Linked DNA regions of Homo sapiens: regions 1, 2, 3, 5 and 6 are each reported to be linked to region 4. Evidence: microRNA targets listed by miRTarBase, many of them from high-throughput screens and not tested one by one. Region 4 holds a microRNA gene; each other region holds the end of a gene's coding sequence. Distances are between the middles of the regions.

Evidence for each region. The annotated mature microRNA hsa-miR-6504-3p reads CAUUACAGCACAGCCAUUCU and lies in region 4 at 2,583-2,602, shown strand. An mRNA with a match to its seed (bases 2 to 7 or 8) in the 3' UTR can be bound and repressed. Matches are read on the target gene's strand: a 7mer-m8 pairs with bases 2 to 8, a 7mer-A1 pairs with bases 2 to 7 and ends in A, and an 8mer does both.
Region 1: the mRNA of TMC7 is a reported target of hsa-miR-6504-3p. Seed matches in the 3' UTR shown: 8mer at 2,946-2,953 and 7mer-m8 at 2,020-2,026.
Region 2: miRTarBase lists ZKSCAN7 as a target of hsa-miR-6504-3p. The part of its 3' UTR that is shown has no 7-base or 8-base seed match.
Region 3: the mRNA of YY1 is a reported target of hsa-miR-6504-3p. Seed matches in the 3' UTR shown: 7mer-m8 at 861-867 and 7mer-A1 at 3,412-3,418.
Region 5: miRTarBase lists PFDN2 as a target of hsa-miR-6504-3p. Seed matches in the 3' UTR shown: 7mer-A1 at 3,714-3,720.
Region 6: the mRNA of SLC16A10 is a reported target of hsa-miR-6504-3p. Seed matches in the 3' UTR shown: 7mer-m8 at 2,194-2,200 and 7mer-A1 at 2,801-2,807.

The regions. Positions count from the first base shown.
Region 1 is chr16:19,061,454-19,065,453 of GRCh38, reverse strand. It overlaps TMC7 (transmembrane channel like 7), which reads right to left. Exons shown (of 16, transcript NM_024847.4): 16 at 1,512-3,676. The coding sequence ends at 3,611. COQ7-DT (COQ7 divergent transcript) reads left to right here. Exons shown (of 3, transcript NR_119381.1): 2 at 1,415-1,649; 3 at 2,559-2,700. Among named protein-coding and RNA genes, the nearest start is that of COQ7, 4.2 kb to the left of the region's middle.
Region 2 is chr3:44,570,917-44,575,046 of GRCh38, forward strand. It overlaps ZKSCAN7 (zinc finger with KRAB and SCAN domains 7), which reads left to right. Exons shown (of 6, transcript NM_001288590.2): 6 at 1-1,242. The coding sequence ends at 459. The region is part of intron 2 of ZKSCAN7-AS1 (ZKSCAN7 ZNF cluster antisense RNA 1); the gene reads right to left. Among named protein-coding and RNA genes, the nearest start is that of ZNF660, 12 kb to the right of the region's middle.
Region 3 is chr14:100,276,948-100,280,947 of GRCh38, forward strand. YY1 (YY1 transcription factor) reads left to right here. Exons shown (of 5, transcript NM_003403.5): 5 at 471-4,000. The coding sequence ends at 653. It overlaps MIR6764 (microRNA 6764), which reads left to right and starts at 410; the gene lies at 410-470. It also overlaps a transcript of SLC25A29 not described here. RefSeq lists an enhancer at 1,386-2,366.
Region 4 is chr16:81,608,805-81,612,936 of GRCh38, forward strand. MIR6504 (microRNA 6504) reads left to right here and starts at 2,544; the gene lies at 2,544-2,604. The region is part of intron 2 of CMIP (c-Maf inducing protein); the gene reads left to right.
Region 5 is chr1:161,096,879-161,101,010 of GRCh38, forward strand. It overlaps PFDN2 (prefoldin subunit 2), which reads right to left. Exons shown (of 4, transcript NM_012394.4): 4 at 3,683-3,981. The coding sequence ends at 3,805. It overlaps KLHDC9 (kelch domain containing 9), which reads left to right and starts at 1,483. Exons shown (of 4, transcript NM_152366.5): 1 at 1,483-2,184; 2 at 2,468-2,627; 3 at 2,720-2,918; 4 at 3,183-3,468. The coding sequence starts at 1,658. The coding sequence ends at 3,346. RefSeq lists silencers at 1,617-1,796, 1,857-1,906.
Region 6 is chr6:111,221,787-111,225,918 of GRCh38, forward strand. It overlaps SLC16A10 (solute carrier family 16 member 10), which reads left to right. Exons shown (of 6, transcript NM_018593.5): 6 at 217-4,132. The coding sequence ends at 449. Among named protein-coding and RNA genes, the nearest start is that of SLC60A2-DT, 35 kb to the right of the region's middle.

The sequences.
Region 1 (4,000 bases), 63 Mb from region 4:
TAAAAAGAATTTTGCCAGGATTAACAGTGCGTGCCCATAAGTGCTGCTTTTTAAGTTTTTTTCTCTGTTGCTTTTGATGTTCTCTGTATTTGCTATAAAAAACAAGTATTTTTATAATGGCAAAACAAAATTTAAAAAACAAAAATGCATACTATTCCCTAATTCCATCCCCCTACCCACCAAATTATCCATTAAAAAAACTAGTTCCAGCCAGGCACGGAGGCTCACCCCTGTAATCCCAGACTTTGGGAGGCCGAAGTGGAAGGATCACTTGAGGTCAGCAGTTCAAGACCAGCCTGACCAACAGGGCAAAACCCCATCTCTACTAAAAGTACAAAAATTAGCTGGGCATGGTGGCACACACCTGTAGTCCCAGCTACTTGGGAGGCTGAGGCAGGAGAATCACTTGAACCCAGGTTGCAGTGAGCCGAGATCGCACTACTGCACTCCAGCCTGGGCAATAGAGTGAGACTACATCTCAAAAAAAAAAAAAAAAAAAAACACAGCCAGGCACAGTGGCTCACGCCTGTAATCCCAGCACTTTGGGAGGCCGAGGCGGGCAGATCATGAGGTCAGGAGATCAAGACCATCCTGATGAAACCCTGTCTCTATTAAAAATACAAAAAATTAGCCGGGTGTGGTGGTGGGCGCCTGTAGTCCCAGCTACTCGGGAGGCTGAGGCAGGAGAATGGTGAACCCGGGAGGCAGAGCTTGCAGTGAGCCGAGATCGCACTACTGCACTCCAGCCTGGGCAATAGAGACTACATATTAAAAAAAAAAAAAAAAAAAAAACACGGCCGGGCACGGTGGCTCACGCCTGTAATCCCAGCACTTTGGGAGGCCGAGGCAGGCAGACCACCTGAGGTCGGGAGTTTGAGACCAGCCTGACCAACATGGAGAAACCCCGTCTCTACTAAAAATACAAAATTAGCTGGGTGTAGTGGCGCATACCTGTAATCCCAGCTACTCGGGAGCCCGAGGCAGGAAAATCGCTTGAACCTGGGAGGTGTAGGTTGCAGTGAGCCAGTATCACCCCACTGCACTCCAGCCTAGGCAACAAGAGCAAGACTTCGTCTCAAACACACACACACACACACACACACAGAGAGAGAGAGAGAAAATACATACACAGGAAAACCCAGTTTCCAAAATTTCAGGGAGACTGATTTGAGTAATAATAATATTCTGGTCTCCTGTTTAGCCAGCTCTGCATGTATCAAACGCTTTCTCTGTTGCAATTCCTCTGCTGCAATTCCTCTGTCTTGATGAATGGGCTGTATCCAGGCAGCGGGCAAAATGAACCAGTTGGGCAGTTACACACATACACCCTCCTTGGCTTCAACAGAGCCAAGGAGCTTTAAAAGCACTCATCTGAGGACTACATTAAACACTTCTTTCTTTTCTCTCATTTTAGGAAAAAGCAAAGAGGAACTTTACAAACTATTACAGTTTTCCATCATCACTTGACTGCTGACAAGAAGCCTCTTTGAATTCCAGTATACACGATCACATTTTAAAACCTTCAAGACGCCGTTTAATCAGGAGTTGTAAGGCACATTTGTTAGAGAGAGCTGCACTTTAAAAGTTATACAGACATCACCTGAAGTTATTAAAGTTATCAAAACATATTAAAAACCTTCAAGTAAGAGGTATGCATATTAGCAGCATTTAACTAAAATTAATATATTAATTAGCATATTTCAGTATCACTTTTATAATAGGAAAAAAAACGCAGTACGTTTTCGTTGTGTTCATCACACACACACACACACACACACACAAATAGAAAACTTGAATATCATCAAGTCTGGTCACAGTGAAAATGTTATATAAATATAAAGGCACTGGGCAGAAATGTTTACAATTACAACTTTTTTTTTCTTTTCACCTATCTTTTTTTTTGAGATAGGGTCTCCCTCTGTCACCTAGGCTGGAGTACAGTGGCACGGTCTCGCACACTGCAGCCTTCACCTCCCAGGTTCAAGTGATTCTCATGCCTCAGCCTCCCAAGTAGCTGGGATTACAGGCACACGCCACCATGCCTGGCTAATTTTTGTACTTTTAGTAGAGACGGGGTCTTGCCACATTGACCAGGCTGGTCTCAAACTTCTGACTTCAGGTGATCTGCCCTCCTTGGACTCCCAAAGTTCTGGGATTGCAGGCATGAGCCACTGTGCCCAGCAGAATTTATTTTTTTAAGTGAGACTGGAATGAATCTTTGGTTACTCAAAATTCCATGACACCAGTTATTAGATTTAGACGAGATCAGGCATTTTCAGGGTGGTATGACTGTAGTTATTAGATTTAGAAACCCATAAACCTTACCAAGTCAGGAAAAGACCGAAAAGCTCATTGGTATCCCAGTTACAAAAATATTCCACTTTAAATAATATCTTTGTGGAAAAGCAAGAAAATGGCTGTAAGAAAGGGACGAGAAGATACCTTTGCTCCTCTGAGCAAGGATTCAGGCATTTTTGAGTAGTGGAGTGGAGATGGCCGGGAGAATTATTGTTAACAGCAACAGCTTTCTAAAACCTGCACCCAACTTTAAATTCCAGGCTACTCCCCAGGAAACGTGTGGAGCCAGTGAACGGAAGAAAAACAATGGAAGGAAGGCTTGAAAAGTCCATTACAAAACTACAGTCCTTTGAAAAAGATTTCAAAGATATTAAAATGAAAACTGATTACATTAAACAATAACTTAAACTTCTGTTCTTCTGTTAAAAGGTTGACATCTATCAATTTTGGGTAAGCTTACAATGAGGTATTTATTGCATATGGTTTTTACCATAACGGAAATCTTAAGAGATATTCTACATTTTTTTTTTAGGGAGAGTTTTGCTCTTTTTGCCCAGGCTGGAGTGCAATGGTGTGATCTCAGCTCACTGCAAACTCCACCTCCTGGGTTCAAGCAATTCTCCTGCCTCAGCCTCCTGAGTAGCTGATATTACAGGCATGTGCCACCACACCCAGCTAATTTTGTATTTTAGTGGAGACGGAGTTTCTCCACGTTGGTCAGGCTGGTCTTGAACTCCCCAACTTAGGTGCTCCGCCTGCCTCGGCCTCCCAAAGTGTTGGGATAACAGGCGTGAGCCGCTGCGCCCAGCCACATGTTTTGTGAAATAAAGGCACATGCATTAAAAATTGTAAGCACAGGAAAACAACCCTAAAAAATGTGGACGTGTGTGTTTAAGAAACCAGCCTCCAATTCTGTTTGTTATACACTCATGGGCTGGTCTGATTAACAGGCTGAGCTTCAGTCCACAACCCAAAACACTTGTGCACATAAACTCGTGGCTCAAATACTAAACTACCGTCTCCGCTCTTTCATTCTTGTAAAAGCTTGAATGGCTTGTTGGTTTTTGGTAGAGTTGTCACAGAGTGGCCGGTCTGCAGGCAAAGCCTTGGGTTTCCCCTGCTTTTCTAAGTCACTGAAGCCCTAATTAAGGGCTGGGTTAGGTAAACACAGCTGCACATATGGAAAAGCCTAAACTCAAGAAAAATATATTTTTAAATGTCCACTCAAAACCCAGGTAGACTCTGTAGGCTCAGCAGAATCACTAGGTCAGCTTAGAAGCAACAGGCAGCACCATCTTCACGCTCAGTCTAGTTAGTTCCTCATGTCCCTTTGGGCTTCTGTTAGTTTCTGGATTAGGTAGCACTTGTCACGACTTTCCTAAAAAATAATAAGTTCACATGTACATTTAATATATTTGGAAACAAATACCATCATTACCTACCAGACTGAGGGCTGAGGATTCTAACCACTGGACTATTGTAATGGCCTCTCATCTGGTCTGTCATTGTGTCTGCTCCACAGCCCCTTGTCCACAAAGCAGCCGATCCTTTTTTTAAAAAATGCACAGTACAGCTGGACACGGTGGCTCATGCCTGTAATCCCAGCACTTTGGGAGGCCGAGGCAGGTGGATCACCTGAGGTCAGAAGTTTGAGACCAGCCTGACCAATATAGTAAAACCCCATCTCTACTAAAAATACAAA
Region 2 (4,130 bases), not on the chromosome of region 4:
GGAGAAAAACCTTTTGAATGTAGCGAGTGTGGTAAGGCATTTGGTCTGAGTAAATGTCTTATTCGGCACCAGAGACTTCACACGGGTGAAAAGCCCTATAAATGCAATGAGTGTGGAAAATCCTTCAATCAAAACTCACACCTTATTATACACCAGAGAATTCACACTGGTGAGAAACCCTATGAATGTAATGAGTGTGGGAAGGTATTCAGTTATAGCTCCAGCCTTATGGTACATCAGAGAACCCATACTGGGGAAAAACCCTATAAATGCAATGATTGTGGGAAAGCTTTTAGTGACAGCTCACAGCTTATTGTACACCAGAGAGTCCACACCGGAGAGAAACCTTATGAATGTAGTGAATGTGGGAAAGCCTTTAGTCAGCGTTCCACTTTTAATCACCACCAGCGAACTCACACTGGAGAGAAGTCCTCAGGTCTGGCTTGGTCAGTTTCTTAAGGTATGGTTCTCTGAGACAGAGAGCAACGACCTTTGAGTTAAGCTGTCTTTATAAGCAGGATGCTCATAGTGGTTTCCCGGAGCCAGTAGTCACGGTGGACCATTCCCTACTTGCTTTTCCTTGGATCACTAAGGTGGGAGAGTAGGAGTAACTTATTCCAGTTCTTACCCATTATTAGGAAGGTAAGGACTACACATGTCATTGAATTGTAGGTTTCCTTTTTTTTTCTTTACTTTTAAATTTTAACTTTTAAAATCTATTTCATTTCTTAGTTATGCATCTCATAATCAGACTCCATGCTTTTTAAAGACAGAGATAATATCTTCTCTATTCTATTCTACTTCCTCCATTTCACCATTTATACAAAGTCATTCAAAAAGGCTGATTCATGCCTTCCTGCCTCTTGGCTATGGCCCTCCCCATCTACTCTTTAAACTTTAATCTATAACTTTTCATCAGTTTTGTTCCCTATCTAGAAAACATTTTCTTCTGTTTGCTAATCTTTGTCCCTCACAATTTTTGAAATCCATCTCATCACTGAAATACTTTCTTCTTCAAGTACTTTTTTATTTTTCTTCAACTTCTCTTGATTTGACCTCAGTGCTTTGAATTCACTGGTGCTACAATATGTAACTGTGGTTAATTGCCTTGTAAATTTTGCGTGTCTGTATACTTTTATACCAACTTATTGTAGGCTCTTTGAGGTCAGGTATGTATTTCTTTCCCATATAGATAGTATTTTGTACATACCAGTTGTTAAATAAATAATTTTTAAAATCTCAGCTCTCACATTGAATTATCCTTAAAGTATGCACGATCTTTCTCCCCTCCCCAGCTGGACCAGCTGCTTCTAAAGATGGAAGTCCATCTCATCATAGAATATCACATACAGAGGTCTTACTGATATCTTTTACATATACTCCTGGAAGTCTTACTACTGTTACTTCAGCCTCAAAATGCGAATGGATTTTGTGTGTGTGTGTGTGTGTGTGTGTGTGTGTGTGTGTGTGTGTATGTATGCAAAAGAGAGAGAGTGTGTGTGTGTGTGTATGTGTGTGAATGTGTGTGTATCTAGGTATTGGGTTGGGCAGTCATATCCCACTGGTACGGACTTTCCCCTACATGCTGATTCTAGTTCTGAATTTGCTAACTGTACCCTGCTTCCTAAATCAACAGATTAAGAACTGTGTCAGCTGGGCGCAGTGGCTCACGCCTGTAATCCCAGGACTTTGGGAGGCTGAGGCAGGCGGATCACGAGGTCAGGAGGTGGAGACCATCCTGGCTAACACGGTGAAACTCTGTCTTTACTAAAAAATACAAAAAATTAGCCAGGCGTGGTGGGGGGCGCCTGTAGTCCCAGCTATTCGGGAGGCTGAGGCAGGAGAATGGCATGATCCTGGGAGGCAGAGCTTGCAGTGAGCCAAGATCGCACCACTCCACTCCAGCCTGGGCAACAGAGCGAGACTCTGTCTCAAAAAAAAAAAAAAAAAAAAAGAACTGTGTCAAAATTTACTGCACCGAAGACTTGACTTTCATAGCAGTGGTACAGATTATTGAAAATCCAGCTAGCAGCATTCCCTGATGCTTGGAATTCACTATGACGAGGCTTGTGGCAAGATAATAGATTCACAGGAATCTGTTTTCCTTATCGACTAGTCCTATCTACCTACAACTGCCATCTTAATTTAAAGATGAGAGCTGTACCCTTAATTATCATAATTGTCTTCTGGACCATCTTTTCATTCCCCGAAGACATAAGAAAAGAAATCTCAGAAGATTTTCTGTCCTTCTGCCATCACATGTCAGTCCATGAGCTTGAACAACTTTTCCCTTCCACCCTTGCAATATGGCCCAGATCTGGGGGACGTTTGCCTCTGTTGTCTACCTCCTTCTCTTTCCATCCCTTAAACTTAATAGGTTTAGAGGATCCACAGTGTGACAGAGTAGAGGAGGAGGCTAGAGGAGCCATGCGAGTTATATAATCTGGAGGGGAGATTTTTTTGAGGTGTGGTGTATGTTTTAACATAGAAGAAAGGGTGGAGTTGAGGCATAGGAAAATAAGATTAGATGTGATTCTAGGGACATATCTCAGGCAAGTTTAGAAAGAATAATAGGAATCCTGAAAACACTGAACCCAGGACAGAACTGAAAATTTGCCACTTATGAATATATATTTTAAATTTGTTTTCAACTTTATATTTAGTATGTGTTTCCATTTTCCTTTAGAAGATATGCAGATAGGACTTTTTCATTGTTTTAGTTTGGAAGCTCCCAGATCCCAGGGACAAGCCCAACCCTATATGAGCACATGGGTCCAGCCCTCTACCCTGAGCTGGACATTTCTGGTTAAGTCTTCAATAGAACGTTCCTGCTTATTGGATGTTGCAGTTTTACCTTCTGGTTCTTGTCTGCTCATCGCCTACCACACTAACCCTCTAGAGGTTGGAAACCTGCACTATTCATAACTAAGGTGGGAATAGTAGGGAAAAAAAGAGTAGATGTAGGGAATTCTACACCAGTGTGTGCCTTGACATCCTTAAAAGCCTGAGGCTTTTGAATGGAGGAAAATTGGCTGCATTTGAAAGCCATACCTCAAATTCTATTGGTTACTGCTAGCATAAACTTAAAAAAAATTTAAATCTGGACTGTTATGTTGCTGAATTATTTTTAGTTTTAATGGTTTTTTAGTTTCATTTTCTAGGTATATAATAAATTAATGGCTCCTTTAGCTTTAAATTTTCTTTTTTTTCTTGGAGACAGGGTCTCACTTTCTTACCCAGGCTGGAGTACAGTGATGTGATCATGGCTTACTGCAGCCTCAACTTTCCAGGCTCAGGTGATTCTCCCACTTCAGCCTCCCAAGTAGCTTGGACTACAGGTGCATGCCACCATGCCCAGCTAATTTTTTGATATTTTTTGTAGAGATGGGTTTTCACCATGTTGCCCAGGCTGGTCTTGAACTCCTGGGCTCAAGCGGTCCGCCTGTCTTGGCCTACCAAAGTACTGAGATTACAGGTGTGAGCTGGCCTTATTTTCAATCTTATGCCACTTATGTTGTGCATTAGCAAGAACTTCCAAAAATGTTGAGTAGTAGATAACAGGTCTTCTATGTCTTGTTCTAAAATCTCAGGAGGGATGTTTTTAGTATTTCACATTTTCATTTGCGTTCATTGTTGGATATTGATAAATATTCTGTTGCGTTTAGGAAGTTTCCTTCTAATATTATTTCTAGAGGAAGCAGGGTAATATAGTGGTTAACAACACAGGTTTGGGGTGGACACGGTGGCATGTGCCTGTAATCCCAGCACTTTGGGAGGCTGAGGCAGGTGGATCACTTGAGGTCAGGAGTTCAAGACCAGCCTGGCCAACATGGCAAAACCCCATCTCTATTAAAAATATAAAAATTGGCCAGGTGTGGTGGCAGGCACCTGTAATCCCAGCTACTTGGAAGGCTGAGGCAGGAGAATTGCTTGAACCTGGGAGGTGGAGACTGCAGTGAGCCAAGATCTCACCATTATACCCCAGCCTGGGTGACAAGAGCAAGACTTCATCTCAAAAGAAAAACAAAACAAAACAAAATGAACAAACAAAAAACATGTCTGTGCCCAGCAACCTATGTTCAAATTCTGGGTCCAGTCAGGTGTGGTGGCTCACACCTGTAATCCCAGCG
Region 3 (4,000 bases), not on the chromosome of region 4:
TACAGGATTGAAGTAATTTATTTTTGGTAGTTAATAGTATAATTACTAACTGATAAAGTTTCTAGAGTGTAAGTATAGGTAATACTTTAGCCCATAAATAAGTGAAAGAACTAGCAGTGCAGCTAGTAAATCTAACGTGGTTCTTTTTTGACAACTGACACCAGAACCCTTAATCATTTGTATTTTACTGTTGGAAATGTTTACAGCAGCACTAGGACTCTAGCCTGCATTTAGGAAGACTTGCCATTTTGCCAAGTGTTTTAAACAGTTCGTGAGGGCTCTCCTTGGGTTTTCGGGGTTGTCCAACCTGCCTGCTGATTCTAGACTATATCCACAAAGTTCACCCAGGGCAGGAATGAAAAGTGTTTGGTAAAATAAATAGGCTGTTCTCTAGCAAAGCAGTGAGCTCCTGACTCCCAGGGTCTGGTCAGAGTTGCTGAGTGGGTTGATCTCTGGTCTTTCCTTGACAGTGCACGTTCGAAGGCTGTGGGAAACGCTTTTCACTGGACTTCAATTTGCGCACACATGTGCGAATCCATACCGGAGACAGGCCCTATGTGTGCCCCTTCGATGGTTGTAATAAGAAGTTTGCTCAGTCAACTAACCTGAAATCTCACATCTTAACACATGCTAAGGCCAAAAACAACCAGTGAAAAGAAGAGAGAAGACCCTTCTCGACCACGGGAAGCATCTTCCAGAAGTGTGATTGGGAATAAATATGCCTCTCCTTTGTATATTATTTCTAGGAAGAATTTTAAAAATGAATCCTACACACCTAAGGGACATGTTTTGATAAAGTAGTAAAAATTAAAAAAAAAAAACTTTACTAAGATGACATTGCTAAGATGCTCTATCTTGCTCTGTAATCTCGTTTCAAAAACACAGTGTTTTTGTAAAGTGTGGTCCCAACAGGAGGACAATTCATGAACTTCGCATCAAAAGACAATTCTTTATACAACAGTGCTAAAAATGGGACTTCTTTTCACATTCTTATAAATATGAAGCTCACCTGTTGCTTACAATTTTTTTAATTTTGTATTTTCCAAGTGTGCATATTGTACACTTTTTTGGGGATATGCTTAGTAATGCTACGTGTGATTTTTCTGGAGGTTGATAACTTTGCTTGCAGTAGATTTTCTTTAAAAGAATGGGCAGTTACATGCATACTTCAAAAGTATTTTCCTGTAAAAAAAAAAAAGTTATATAGGTTTTGTTTGCTATCTTAATTTTGGTTGTATTCTTTGATGTTAACACATTTTGTATAATTGTATCGTATAGCTGTATTGAATCATGTAGTATCAAATATTAGATGTGATTTAATAGTGTTAATCAATTTAAACCCATTTTAGTCACTTTTTTTTTCCAAAAAAATACTGCCAGATGCTGATGTTCAGTGTAATTTCTTTGCCTGTTCAGTTACAGAAAGTGGTGCTCAGTTGTAGAATGTATTGTACCTTTTAACACCTGATGTGTACATCCCATGTAACAGAAAGGGCAACAATAAAATAGCAATCCTAAAGCAAGAATATGGCAGAACAAGATCTGTAAGCACAGTCTTATTTTCTTTTGTTGTCCAGAATACTTATAATTCTTGAGCCTCCCAGAAATTGGAAGCTAAATAAAGCAACTCAAGTTTCCTTTATTTTGCACTCAATTACAGTGATTATTGATGAAAGCGATGCATGGATATTTTAATACTTCCTACATGTCCTGACTTCTGAAAGAGAGTAGGTAACAGGCATCCCGAGTTCAGGAACTACCTCAGAACACCCCAGGCCAGGTTGGTCATAGGCTGTGATTTTAGCCCCCGGCAAGTGTGAGTGAAGCATCTGTACCACCGCGCAGGCTGAGCGCCTGCGCAGGGTAAGGTGCCACCTGGCAGTGGGGCACACAGAGGGAAGACCAGGCCTGTCCATCAGCCGGCTGCCTTCAGAGGCAGCTCCAGCAGGACCTTGGCTTGTCTGACAGGAAATGCTTGTGGTCGTTGGTTATTTGGTTTGAGAGCCCTTGTTCCTCCATCTAGTGGAGTCCTTATTAAATGCTAGCAATGTGGCAATTGAGTGCCAGTAGCTTAATTTCATGTTTCTAAATGGACACTGGGTGCAAATCGGCAAGGTGATTAGATTATTAGAAAATTCTGCTCAATGAGTACCTCTCACATTGTAACCTCTTAAATGTACGATTATAATGTTGGATCTTAGGTCAAATAACAGACTTGAGAATACTTTATAAACTGCCATGATACAGCAAAATCTCATTTATTCAAAGTGCAAACATACTGTGTGTCTTTCTGTTTTGTGTATGCTTGACTGCAAGATAAATGACAAACTAGCTAATATCCGAGATTTATTTACAAATGGCCAGGGACCCCATCAGGTGAAACACATAGCCCATTGTCTTAGAGCTTCTCCATCGGTCCTGTACAGGAGGATTGGTGACCTACTAACAGTGACCCTGTGGCTCTGTGGAATTTTGAAGTGCCTTTTGTGAATCATGAATGAAACATTTAACTTGAGACCCTTTAAAAAATTCATCCAGAATCTGTTACCCCTTGGGTAGTTTGATGGAACTGAGTTAAGCAGAAGACCCCAGCTGTTTTCTGGGTAAGCCAGGCTTTGCTGTATCTGGCAGTCAGGAGAGAGGTCAGCCCATGGTGGAGGTCTTCAGTGCCGAGGGCTCGGATGAGAACGTGTAGTTCTTTGACTTGGACCTGGGCAGCGTCTTCTATGGATGCCTGCCTTGTGAGCACCCACACCTTCCCTCCCCACTGTCGGGTTGAGTAGCCCCAGCGTGGCTGTGTTAGGAGTCCTTTGCCCAACATTGTGCTGCACTGGAGCCTGGCCCTGGCACTGTCCTCAGGACCCTGCCCAAGGGCCCACCGCAGAGCACACCTATGCTATGGGGAGCCCTGCTGGCAGCCCCGAGAGCCATGCCATGGCCTGCAGGAGCCAGGCTCCTGTGTGGATGAAGTCCCTCTTCCTCTGTGCCTTGATCCCTTGGGGGTGCCTTTGGTCATCTCTTCTGTCCTTTCCTGTCTCTGAAATAGTCATCACTCCCCTTGACTCTCTCTGTTCACGTCTTCTCAGTCTGCAGAGTTAACTTCTGTAAGGAGTTTAATCTGGGGTTCCAAGAAAACAAGTTCCTTGTTAACATAGCACTGACTTTGCAACAATAGAAAACTAACAAATGAGCAACAATATAAAGAGTAGAGGTAGTTCTCATTGGGTGTAACTTCAACCCATTCTGCTTGTGGTTAGAATTTATAATTTTGCTAACGATGTAATTTACTAAGGTTTGAAATGGTATTCTAACAGTGAGTCCATTGTCTTGAGGATTAATCTGATTTATAAGTAATACTGATAGACATATTTTCGTACATCTGAGCAGAAATAAATGCATGTTTCTAGCATATGTAATATAAAAACTCCAGAGGATAAGTTTACACTTAACAAGATGTTGTTTTCTATTTTTGAATTTCTTATTATTTCCCCCTTTTTGGTAGTGGAGTTGAGAGGGGGAGCATACTATTTGTATAAAGAACTGTCACCCCAGAGTGACATTTATTTTCCAAGATGACCCTGAACTCATGCTGTTGGTTTCATATGGTGTTTGTGTGCTTTGCCTAGATTCAAGGCCTGAGGATTTGAGGAAAATCGGGATTTTTTTTTTCCTATTTGGTTTTCATGTAAAAGTTCTAAATGTCACTTATTTTGCTAAATAAGACCCTTTCACAGGATAGTGTGCGCAATACCTGTCCGTGTTTCCAAGCAGAGTTCAAGTTCATGTCTTCACAAGTAGATGAGAGTCACTTCCAGTCGGGGGAAGCCCGCCTGAGCAGTGTTTTGAGAGTGCGTACATTGGAGGACTGCCCCACGTCCGTTTGCACTCTGCCTTGCAAAACTTACTGTGGAGACGTGTCCCAGACTGGTCTCAGACCAGAGTTTGTGGCACAGGAAAACCTGGCCCCCTAAAAAGAAGTTTTGGAATTGGAAGCCTGATA
Region 4 (4,132 bases):
TACTCTCTTATCAGTGGGAAGAAGACCTGCCTTGCTTTTTCTTTTGGGATCATTTTATTCCTAACTTGTTTTTCCAGGGAAACCTTCTCTTAGCCCAAAGAGATGCTTTCTAAAAACCTATTTTAGATCTAGCAGCCACTGGATTGTGTAACAGCATTGGGCTGAGAGTCACCCAGTCTGGGCTCCAAGGAATGCTGAGCTCAGTAGCGGAGCGTAACAACTTAGCATTGTTAGAAATGTCCTGTTTCTTACTGTCATCTCTCAGAGGACTCTGGAAACCACGCCTGCCCCAGTCTGCTTTCTTCTTAGTGAATCTCTCACACTCTGCCCTCTACGCTTTTCTTTTAACCCTGTCCCCACACCCCCACACTGTCCCTCCCCCCCTCCCCACCACAGCCAGCAAAGCCTTCCTCTTCTTTCTTTCTCTCCTCTCATCTTTATGATAGAGGTCAGTGTCACCCTCCTGCCAGACACTTCTGCCAGCTCCTCTGCCTCTTCACTCGCTCCTTCTTGCCCATCCGATGGCTGCAGCACAGAGTCCATGAAGGGGGTGGTCAGTGCCAGCCCCCCTCGGCGGGGGAGATGGGGCGGGCAATCACAGGGTTCAGTGGCCAACGGAGAGGTAGGGTAGCCAGAGATTGTCCTACCCCAATGACTTTGCTGTAGTCACAGAGCTTTGAGGCAGCCTCTCCCCTGTGCTCGGGGAGGCCCCATGCGTGAAGAGCCCCTCAGCCCCTGGGGAGACAGAGCCATAAACAAATGATTACGGAAATAATGGCTAAATTAGAGGCAACCGTGGAGGACTGGGAGCCCAGAGAAGGAGGAACTTATTTGGCCTGGGGGGCCAAAGCAGGCTCCCCAGACAGGGGGCATTTGAACTGGGTGTAGAGGGATGAGTAGAAGTGTGCCAGAATGGTGGGGTGGGGGCACACTCCCCGGGCAGAGGGGATGTGTGTGCAAAGCCTGAATATGGGGGACCTGGGTACTTGCTGCAGCTGGAGGAGATGGAGAGATGGAGTTTGGGGCTGTGGATATGTCTAGATCTGTTGGGCGATGGCCAGATCACCCAGGCCTTGCCAGCCAAGTGAAGAAGCCTCAGACCCTCTTCCAAAGGCAATAGGCAGCCACTGAAAGCTCTGAAGGGGTAGAGGGACACTAGAGGAATCAGTGTGGTGGCAGGGCAGAGGGGCCTAGATCTGTGCATGACAGAGAGGCAGGAGGGAGCCCCTTGAAACATTCCAGTTGGAGGAGAGGAGGCCCTGAGCCTCCACTTTCCTGCTCCACCAGCAAAGGGGCCTCATTCCTTCTGGGGCTGGAGGGGCAGCCCTGGCCTCCAAAGGAGGCCAGAGCATCACTCGCCACAGGGATGGAGGGGCAGTGAGGCTGAAAAGCAGAGAAGCAGTGCCTGGAATGTCCCTTTAACCCGGCTGTGGCCGCGGGCCCAGCTGTGATGACTCGCCTGGCCGCCGTGTCTGGCAGGGCTTCAGGACAGAGCTGCCGCCGTGGTGCTGAGGAGCCGAGCGGGCGGGGAGCCTCTAGCTGCTCCAGCATCCCACTTGCTCACTGCCCCCTGATCCCGTGGACAGCGCAGTCAGAGGCAGGAGCAGGAGAGGAGGAAGCAGAGGAAAAGGAGGAGGAGGAGGCGGCTTGCAACTCCTCAGATCCAGAGCCGGACTCCGAGCTAATGAGGGAGCAGCAGACACGGCCTCCCAACCCTTCCCCCAAGGGGAACCCAGGTGGGTGCAGCCCCTGCCCCTGGCGGCTGTGGTTCTCTCCCTGGCTGCCATTTCCGTCAGGGGAGGTAGACCTGGATCGGCTTCTCCCTTGCTTCCCTCTCATCCTCACCCCCACACTCTGCCCACCGTGATGCATGGGTGGTATGTAGCTGGCTCATTCTATAAACAGGGCTAGCGAGTCTGTGTGGTTCTAGGGAGGCTGGGGCGGGGTGCACTTGGCCCCTGGTGTGGTACTCAGGGCTTTCTTCAGTCCTGGTTGTATTCACGTGCCTTTTGTGACGGGTGGCAGGACCCTCTGCTTTGAGAGGCTGTACTTTGTCTTGATTCACATACAACATACTGTATTAGATCCCAGAGCCGTGGTGTCACAGAGAACAACCCCTTTGGCCCTGGGGACAGATCTTCCCTGCTCCAGGGTGGGAGAGGGGACCAAGAAACAGCCAGGTGCCCATCTGAACGGCATTACCTTAGTGCTCCTAGTCAGCAGATGAGTGAAAGTGCCTTAAATGGTGCCGCCCGGCACAGCCACCAGCAGCCACGCATGGCAGCCCACAGATGGATTTAATTTACTCATCAAATTAATAACACAGTTCCTCAGTCCCGTTAGCTACACCTCCAGTGGCCAGGGGCCACACATGGCCAAAGGCTGCTGTGTTGGACAGCGCACATAAAGAACATTTCCATTGACACACGAAGTTCTGTGGAGCAGTGCTGACCTCGAGGCCTTTTCATTTTGACCTCATACTGCAGGCACCTGAGCCCCTCCTGGGGCGAATCACGTCAGATCACAGGGGGCTCTTCGATCTTGCAGTCTGGCTGTGCTGTAATGCAGTCTGCACCCTGCTGCATTACAGCACAGCCATTCTCTCTACAGACAAGGGGAATGGCGGGGCCCAAAGAGGGCTAGTGCCCCTTCCCTACCCCAGCCTGCCTGATCTCTCTCCATCTCTGTCTCTTTCAGGTTCTTTGCATCCATGTGTGTCTGTTTTCCTCTCTCTCATGCCTTTTCTCCATCTCTCTCCCCTCCTTCCCCTTCTGTCCCCTCCTGCCTCTCCTCTTTCTCTCTCTTTAGTCCTTGCTGTGGCTCACTCTGGGCTTCTCTTGCAGGTCCTTCCTCCAGGCCTCTCACCACCTCTGAGCCTGTCCCCCAGTCCTCTCTGTGTGTCTCTCCCCTCTTCTCTTCCTCCTCCTCCGCTCTCTCTGTCTTCTAAGGAGCTCTTTGTAAAACTCTTACTTTGTTAGAATTTGAATCAATGCCTCTTGCAGACCTCGGGGAGCTGACCTGATCCTTCAAGGAAGGCAGAGAGGACATTCAGGCCCATGCCCCTCATCCCCAGCTCAGAGACAGAGCAATCTACCAGCAGGTTGAGTTGGCAGACAGAGGCGCCCAGCCTTCCAGCGTGGGTCCAGTTGGTGTGTTTTGGATGCTTTGTGTTTTCAGCGTGAGCTCCCTCACTGCCATGTTATTAGAATCCCTCGTTGCAGAAAGGGCCTGTTTATCCCATTTCCTCCATTGATGCCCTTTCTGCTAGCATTTCATTGTGGGGAGGCCAAGCATGTAAGTACATAGACAGTGTCATGAAAACGTCCTGAAGGTGCTGTCACTGGCCCCTGGGATGGGGTAGCAGGCATTAAAGAGCAGCGCGGCGCAGATCATCTTCTGGGGGATTCTGCCTAAAAATTGAGTGGCTGCCCATCAGCAAAAATTAGACAGAGCCGCTGCTCCACAAACAAGGCTTCAGGCAAGATAAGAGCAGGGAGACCCTCCTCCCAAGAGTGTCTGCTTCTTTCGGGGATGGGTTCCGGGACTCGGCTCTTCTCACCAATGTTCTGGAAAGTCCTGCAGGAGGCGGGGCAACTGTTTACCCCAAACATTGGCAGCAGGGCAGGGACGGGGTGGGTTCCTTTCTTACTGGAAGGTAGCAAGCAGGACTTTTCCGGTCTGGAAAGCACCAGAAAGGTCTCACTCTCTAGCTTCCAGTAAGAAAGGAAGCTCCTTTTCCCTAAGAAACTGGGCCGGGGAAGGGGAGCTTGGAAAAGGTCGCTCACAGCGCACCCTGGGCTGTTTTTCTCACCTCTCAAGACAATGCAACAATGAGAAAGAACTTGGCAAGTTTGGGAGAGGAAATTGGGCAGCGTTTGCCTGGAACCAGGCCCTTTCAGCATTCCAAAGATTTAACACCAGAAGTCGGAAGCCTGGAACCAGCTGCCCGCAGGCTTCCGGGGGACTTGGGGTCTGGCTGGGGACCTCTCCCATGTCTGAATGGATTCTCCTCTGAGTGACCCTCAGGGTTGGGCTGGGGGACCTTTCCCAGGTCTGAATGGATTCTCCTCAGAGTGACCCTCGGGGTTCCAGCCATGCCTTATGTTCCCACTGGGCTGAGTTCTCTTGGCTC
Region 5 (4,132 bases), not on the chromosome of region 4:
CAAGGACAGTAAAAGTTAGTGATTTTTTAGAGATTCTTACCATGATTTTGGAAAACTGAGAATACTGCCTGTCATACTCAGGGAAAGCTATAGTTGGGAGGGCAGAGACTTTCAAAGCTATTGTTGAATCTTGGCTTTAAGGTACAGGTGGGGAACAGGTCCTGGTAATCTTCCAATCTCTGTAACTGTGCCTTTCCTGCCCATGCCATCCCCATGCTGTGTTCTCTGAGGACCAAGAGTTGGGAAGAGGAGGGGAAAGCCCTGCTGTGCTATCAGACCCTGCATTACATGCCCATCCTCACTGCAGCCCTGGCCACTGTCTCCTTTCTTCCTTTCTTTATTTCTTTTCTTTTTTTCTTTCTTTCTTTCGCCAGGGTCTCACTATGTTACCCAGGCTGGTCTTGAACTCCTGAACTCCTGGCCTCAAGTGATTCTCCTGCCTGGCCACTTTCTATGGTCTCAGTATCTCAGGTATGATGGGGAGCAAGGTGATGTGTAGAAACCAAAGGCCACAAGTAGCAGTCATCATTCCCACTTACAGCCCAGTCCCAGAGGACACAGATCCTGTTTTTGCCCCACACCAGCTGTGTTGGGAGGAAAATTCTGTCTGTATTTCCTCCTTCAGCTGAAAGCAGAAAGCTTGCATCTGGGCCTCTTCAGTTATCACTTGGTCCTGGGGGACAGAGTTAATATCTGGAAACTGGCTTAAATAAAAGATATCAGGGAAGGGTAGGAGTCTGTTTTTCTCATTTTCTCACTCTTCCCCCACTTCACCCTTCTAAGGCTGCGTGGGTTCTCTCTCTCTCTCTATCTCTCTCTCTCTCTCTCTCTCTCTCTCTCTCTCTCTCTCTCTCTCTCTGTGTGTGTGTGTGTGTGTGTGTGTGTGTGTGTGTGTGTGTCACCTGAGAGACTGGGTTCTGCTACCCTCTAGTGGCCAGAGCTGAAAGGACTCTCCCACCCAATCAATCGGGACCTTCAAGCCTTTGGGAATAAACGAACAGCCTATTTGATGAATGACAAAACTGAGAAGGCCTAGAGAGAAACAATGCCTTTGAGGGTCAGGGGCATAGTTGGGACTAGAACCCAGGTCTCCTGTCTCTCGGGCCAGTGGTCAGTCCACTTTCACTTCCCCACCCTCTGACTTTTGCTTCTCCTTCCTTGCTCATCCCTGGGGTGGTTAGCCCGAGTAAGAAACCCTGAAGCCAAATGATCCCTCCCGGCCCTAGTGGAGCAGCACCTGCACCTCAAATGTCAAAATCGCAAATCAGTTCACAGCGGAGATCACAGGGGTTTATTCTAAGGACCCGACTGTCCTCCGACTTTCTGAGGTTAACAATCTTGCAGGATTTTTATTGACCTGATACAGCTCCCGTAGCCTTGGTGGCACCACCATACGGTTCCCGATAGCCACCCAGGTGTCCTGTCTCCACGGTAACTGCTGCTTTGCGACCTTCGGTTTGCAGCGGTCGCGCTGCAGCCGCTGCAGTGGTTGCTGGGCGACCACGGAGAGAAAGCCGGGACTTGAGGTGGGAACCCCGGCTGGCGTCCGGTAGGGGGAGGTTCCCGGGGAAGCCCGCGGAAGGCGAGGTGCCTGGCCTGCCATGTAGGGGCTCGTTCCAAGCCGCAGACCCCACCGCCCTCCCTCTCCCCGGGGCCCATGGCGGTGGCCGTGCCCCCGGGTCGGGCCGCAGGCTCAGGCTGGGCCTGGAGGCCAGTGGCGCGGGACGCGCTTTTGGCTAGAGCTTTCCATTCATGCACCGAACTGCGGGGACGGTTCTATCTCGTAGGTGGTCTCCTAGCAGGAGGAGCGAGAGAGCCCAGCAGCGATACGGTGGTTTTCGACCCAGCTAGGGGCCAGGCCGTACGATTGGGAGCCCGGGGCAGCCCCCCGCGCAGTCACCACGACGCGGCACCCGTGGACGGGCGTTGGCTCTGCGTGGTGGGCGGCTGGGACGGGTCTCGCCGCTTGGCCACAGTGACCGCACTGGACACAGAGCGCGGTGTGTGGGAGGCGTGGACAGGGACCCCTGGTGACTGCCCCCCCGCCGGCCTCAGTAGTCACACCTGCACCCGAATCTCTGACCGAGAGCTGCAGGTGGCTGGCCGGGAGGGCGGTATCCACACTCAGCGACGCTATGGAAGCATCTACACATTAAGGCTGGACCCCAGCGCCCGCACCTATTGGTATGGCACCCTCCGCCCAAAACCTTTCACTCTCATCCACACTCTCGAAAAACAAAAGCCTAAGCAGATTTCTCAGGCAATTTATCCACCTCCTCACTCTAGCACCCTCCTTCCAGGGGAACCTACCATGTTTAAGCTAGCTGAGCTCTCTACAGTATTACCCTCCCTCTTATCCCACCTACCGCACTGCCCCATGCCTCTTCTCCATCCATCCTTGGCAAGGGCGGTGGCACTTACATTTTCCAGAAAACCCACTCAGCCCTGAATTTCTGCATGTCCACAGCTACAAGCAAGAAGGCTGCCACACAGCCTCACGCTCAGGTCACTGTGCGGCCCTGCTCCAAACTCCTGGACCCCATCCAGGTCATCAGCTATTGCTCTTTGGAGGTTGCAACTTAGCTGAACCAGAAGTAGCTGGGCATTGGAGTCATGGGAAAATTAAGGTATTAGCTCCTCACACATCTTGTTTAGGATGGGAAGAGGCTAAAATTGTGATGCCCAGGTCTCTTCGGACAGTCCTTTCTTTCTCCCCAAGGAGGAACCACCTGTTGCTCCTCATTTGATGGAACAGCTTGCAAGGCTTGTGAGCAGTGGGCAGGGGTCCCAGAAGGGGCCCCATGGACTACGGCATCACTCATGTTCTGTGGTCGGGCCCTTTGCTGTGCTGTTTGGTGGAGAAACTCTGACCAGAGCTAGAGACACCATCTGCAATGATCTCTACATCTATGATACTCGTGAGAGCCAGACTAATGGCTGAAGGGGGGGAAGGTGGGAAGATGGGGGAACCTGAAGACTACAGAAAGAGGATGGAGTGATGGGGTAGGGAGGAGGAAAAATTAGTTGACAGGAGTTAAAGGAGTACACAGAATATTAAGCATTTGAAGAGGCCTACAAATCAAGTGAGCAGAAAAACAATGGGCAAGCCCTTGGTCATGTTGAATTCTGTGAATGACAAAGTGCTACTGCCTCAATAACCACCCTCTGCCCGTATCCAACAGGCACATCTCCTCCTTTGTGGTTCCACTTCCCCTGTGCAGATCGTGGGATGAAACGCATGGGCCATCGCACCTGCCTTTGGAATGATCAGCTTTACCTGGTTGGGGGTTTTGGTGAGGATGGCAGGACAGCCAGTCCACAGGTTTGCATCCTGGACTTTATCTAAATAGTGCCAAGACACATCACTAAGCCTCGTTTTGTTTTGCTTTGTTGCAAACCTATAAAGCGTTATCACCAGAGCTATCTGCTTCACTTCAAATGCTTATTAAATTTCAATCTGAGACTCAAGATTTGTCTCTGAAATTTTTGGGGGGAGGGGGAAGGGCAGTAAATAAGTGGACATACCTTTATTTGCAAGGAAAGGATAAAATAAATATGGGTCCTACTCTCATATTATGAGTCATTAACCTGATGGAAACAAAAACCACACATCATATGCTGTTCCGTGTCTCAAAACAATTTCCACCCCCAAGTGGGAGAAAACTTCAGGCTACAGCTAAGATTCTGACCAAAACATTTAATTAACAAAAAAATATTACAATAGCAGAGAAAATAATAATAATAACAATAAAGAGAAATTAGAAGTGGGAGTCAGGGTAGAAAAAAATGCAAAGGCCTTGGTCCCTAGGAGACCAACACTCCAGCTGAGCTGGCCTTAGCCCCAGCCCCTTCTGAGTTTTCCTTGGCTGCTGGCTTCTCATCTTCTCCCATGAGACGAATGTTGTGCTTTTCCCGGAATTCATTTAGTTCTTTTCCCTTTGCCTGAAGCTGCTGTGTCAGTGTCTCAATGATCTTCTGTATCTAGAGGACAAGTGACAGGGATTATATAAGGAATTCAGGACTCCTTTCCCCCACCTGGAATGGACTATGGTTGGAGGAAGTGTTAACACATTTAACCTTACCTTTAACCAAGTAGAGGAGCCCAGACATTAAAATTATTCCTTTCTTGAAC
Region 6 (4,132 bases), not on the chromosome of region 4:
GTCTTGGTATGAAAATCCAGAGGACTGTACTTTATGACAACGTTAAAGATATGAGATCTTTTTCTTCCTATCAAAAAGGGTTTATATTTCAGATCTGTTTCCTAAAAAAAAAAAAAAGTCTGATGTCTGAGATGTCTGAATCAGTCCTGTGGCTGATCTAGACCCCCTACAGAGCCACACTTGTTCTCCCTTGGTGACAGCTTTTTCCCTTCTCAGGGTTACTTCGTGACAAACTGGGCTCCTATGATGTGGCATTCTACCTCGCTGGAGTCCCTCCCCTTATTGGAGGTGCTGTGCTTTGTTTTATCCCGTGGATCCATAGTAAGAAGCAAAGAGAGATCAGTAAAACCACTGGAAAAGAAAAGATGGAGAAAATGTTGGAAAACCAGAACTCTCTGCTGTCAAGTTCATCTGGAATGTTCAAGAAAGAATCTGACTCTATTATTTAATATCTTACATACCTCCACCAGACTGGACTTGCTTTTTGAATTTTAAGCAAGTTTCCTTTCCTTTTATACAAATTGCAAATTTCATATTTTTTTAATCACATCCTAGGAATAGCACAATAATTGGGAAATAGAACCCTTATCACTAGAAGAACCATTTTCTGCCACTAAATATCTCTGATGTTTCCATGAGTCTGAGGGCAGAGACTCTGGTATATGAAAACGTCTGAAAGTCACATATTGTGAAAATTTGAAGCTATCTCAGTAAAAAGCAGCTTTGGAAACTGTGAATGATCTTTAGCTTGTACAAATGTTTAAAAATACCTCAGGCTATACTGAAAGGGTTGCAGTTTGGTTAGGAGTGGAAATATTTTGTTTGTTAATGATGTCTTCAGTTCTGGTACCTCTGTTTTACTTTCTTATGCTCTTTGGAAACTTTTTGCAAAATTTAAGCCTGGGTTCTAGATAATACCAGATCTACCTAAACCTCAAGTCTATGTTAAAGTTGCTTTCCTGCTGTTAAATAAGCTATGATATTAAGATATTCTGACTTGCTCCAGTGTCAAGGGACCTTCTGGGAGCAGGTGCTAACATAGTGTTCAGAATCAATATGTGAGATGAAAAGGATCCCCTCCAGGAGGATCCTGAGCTGTTCAGAAATCATTTAAGTTTACAGCGTTGTTCCCTTTGCGTTTGCAGTGCGTTTTACTCAAGTAGCCAGAAACACCCCACGTTTCTGAATTTGTTTAAACTGTAACAATAAAGTAAAATAGAATGCATGAAAGATATTCTGGCGATTGTAACTTAGAATTTTTCTGACTTCTGGATTTGTTGGCACTAGAACCTGATATTTAAAGTCTTACTGAGCAGCTATCAAGTGGCAGTTACAGGCACAAATTGGTGGAGGCTGGAGGATGGGGAGGGGAGCAAAACCCTTTATATTTGTGAAGAAAATATCTGTAGCTGATAGAAATAATTGCTTAAATTGGTTTATGAAATTAATGAGTCTGAAAAGGTTAAAAGCACTTATAAAAAGAACCAAGTCCTACATTTCCAGAACTTTCTGGCAAAAATTTGCACTCATATTATTTATCCTATGAACATTCCCATTGTTTTTTTTTGCTATTTATATACAGATTATCATAAGAAAGCTCTCAGTTTGAGGACCCAAAATAAAACCAAAGTCATGCCATGACCCATACTCATTTACAAAAACAAGAACACTTTCCTCTATCCCTAAAATTATGCTTTAGTACTTGAGGCCTTTAAAAGTTAGTGCTTTTGATTGTGAAGACATTCAGCAACTTACTTTGTCATACATGCAGTTGCACCTTACCACTTCTAATAGTGTCATATTTCATATTCAGGGGACTTAGATAATTTGCCTGTGGATGGTTCTTTTGCAGGAAAAAAAATCTACATTTTGACCATACTACCCTTTCATGTCCTTATTATAAGCTTTTAGAAAATGATTTCATTCAGTCATGTCCAGTTATATAAAACGTTACTTTCTCATTTTTGAGAAGTTCAACAAAACATACTACTAAGACCAATCATCAAACCCACTATTATAAATGTTAATTTTGGCTGGGTAAGGTGGCTTGCGCCTATAATCCCAGCACTTTGGGAGGCTGAGGAGGGAAGATTGCTTGAGCCCAGGAGTTTGAGACCAGCCTGGGCAACATAGCAAGATCCTGTCTCTACTAAAAATAAAAAAAAAAATTAGGCCAAGCATAGTGGCTCATGCCTGTAATCCTAGCACTTTGGTAGTCCAAGGCAGGGGGATCACTTGAGCCCAGAAGTTCAAGACCAGCTTGGGTAACATAATGAGACCCTGTGTCTACAAAAAATTTAAAAATTAGCCAGGCATGATGGTGCCCACCTGTAGCCCCAGCTACTCAGAGGCTGAGGTAGTGGAAGGATTGCTTGAGCCTTGAGATGGAGGCTGCAGTGAGCTATGCCACTGTACTCTAGCCTGTTCAACTGAGCAGAACCCTGTCTGTAAAAGAAAATCAAAAACAAAAAATAAATGTTAAATTTTGTTTTAAGTTTTAGCACAGACTCCCCTCAAAACACCTTCTCCCCAATTTTACAGAAAGTAATTTAAAAATGAAAACTTTACTCTGTAAAGACCTCTACAGTGTTTTTCTTTTCAAAATTTGGCTGATTTTAGGAAAAAAGTGATCATCTGAAACTAAAAGAAATTGCTTGGTTAGTTTCCATATTAAAACAGCAGTGACAAGTATATATAACTTAGATCTCAGCATATGTGTTTGTATATTAAACTTCACATATGTAGTTTTCAGTTTAATGGAATGAATCAAACTGGATCTATAACACTGAAAAAGTTCTATTGTAATAGACTCATACGGAGAATACTCTGCTATAATAATATAAAATTAAGAAGAAAAAGTATAAACGTAAGATGCTAAATTCCATAAATGCATATTTAGTACTATGTTTTTTGTGGGAAAAGTTCTAAAAGTTTAAAATGCACAAAGAAAATGAAAAATACTAATATAAAAATTTGTGCTTTAATCTAGTCAAACTAAATCCTTTCTAATTTCTGAATGAAGTGTTACTGCTGCAATAAAGTGACCTGATAAGCCTAAATTTTTTGTGTTCAATCCAGACACTTTTCTGAGAGTCTGAAAAGAATACAGAGTCAGAACTCTGTTTTTATCTCCTCATCCTGTTTTTGATAAGACTCAGAAAATTCTCAAATTCGAAAGGTTCTGGCATTTGAGGCCAAAAAAAGCATGAAAGGGAGTAACATTCCTTTTTATAGATACTCTAGATTGGATACTATTGTAACAGATGGCCAAGAAACTTCCAGAAACATTTTGGTTAAATTTTATTGCAATGGATATTGCTGGGATCCATCCATTTAAGCAGTAATATACCACCCAGATTATTGATACTTTATGCAAGATGTGTTCATCTCTTTGATCATATTTACAATGCTTACTCCATAGCCCTGCTACAAGACTTAAAATTTCCACTGAAAATTGCATAGTTCTTGTATTAAGATTCAAATTCTGGCTGGGCGCAGTGGCTCACGCTTGTAATCCCAGCACTTTGGGAGGCTGAGGCAGGCGGATTGCCTGAGCTCAGGAGTTCGCAACCAGCCTGGGAAACACGGTGAAGCTCCATCTCTACTAAAATACAAAAAAATTAGCCAGGCGTGTCGGCATGCACCTGTAGTCCCAGCTACTCGGGAAGCTGAGGCAGGAGAAGAATCCAGGAGGCAGAGGTTGCAGTGAGGCGAGATTGCGCCACTGCACTCCAGCCTGGGCGACAGAGCGAGACTCCATCTCAAAAAAAAAAAAAAAAAGTAAAAGTACACACAGTTTAAAAGTAAACATGTTTACTTCGGATAATTCTAATCCTTTTAGCTGCATTTAAGAATATTTTAATTTATACGAATGTTACTTGAAATTGGCCTATGTCCAGATGACTTTTGATGTTAAATCAATGGAAAACTGAATAGAAAATATGACACGAGATCGGGGAGGGGGAAGGCAACCTATAGCATGGGTGGCTCTGAGGAGTTCCTGCTGGTGCACTTTCATGCCCTTTCTTATGTACCTTTTGTCTTACTCTTCTTACATTATTCTTATCCTCATCATTTTTTCATTTCCCTTTACTTCCTCCTATCCTTCAAAAACCTCCTGAAGAGTCCATTA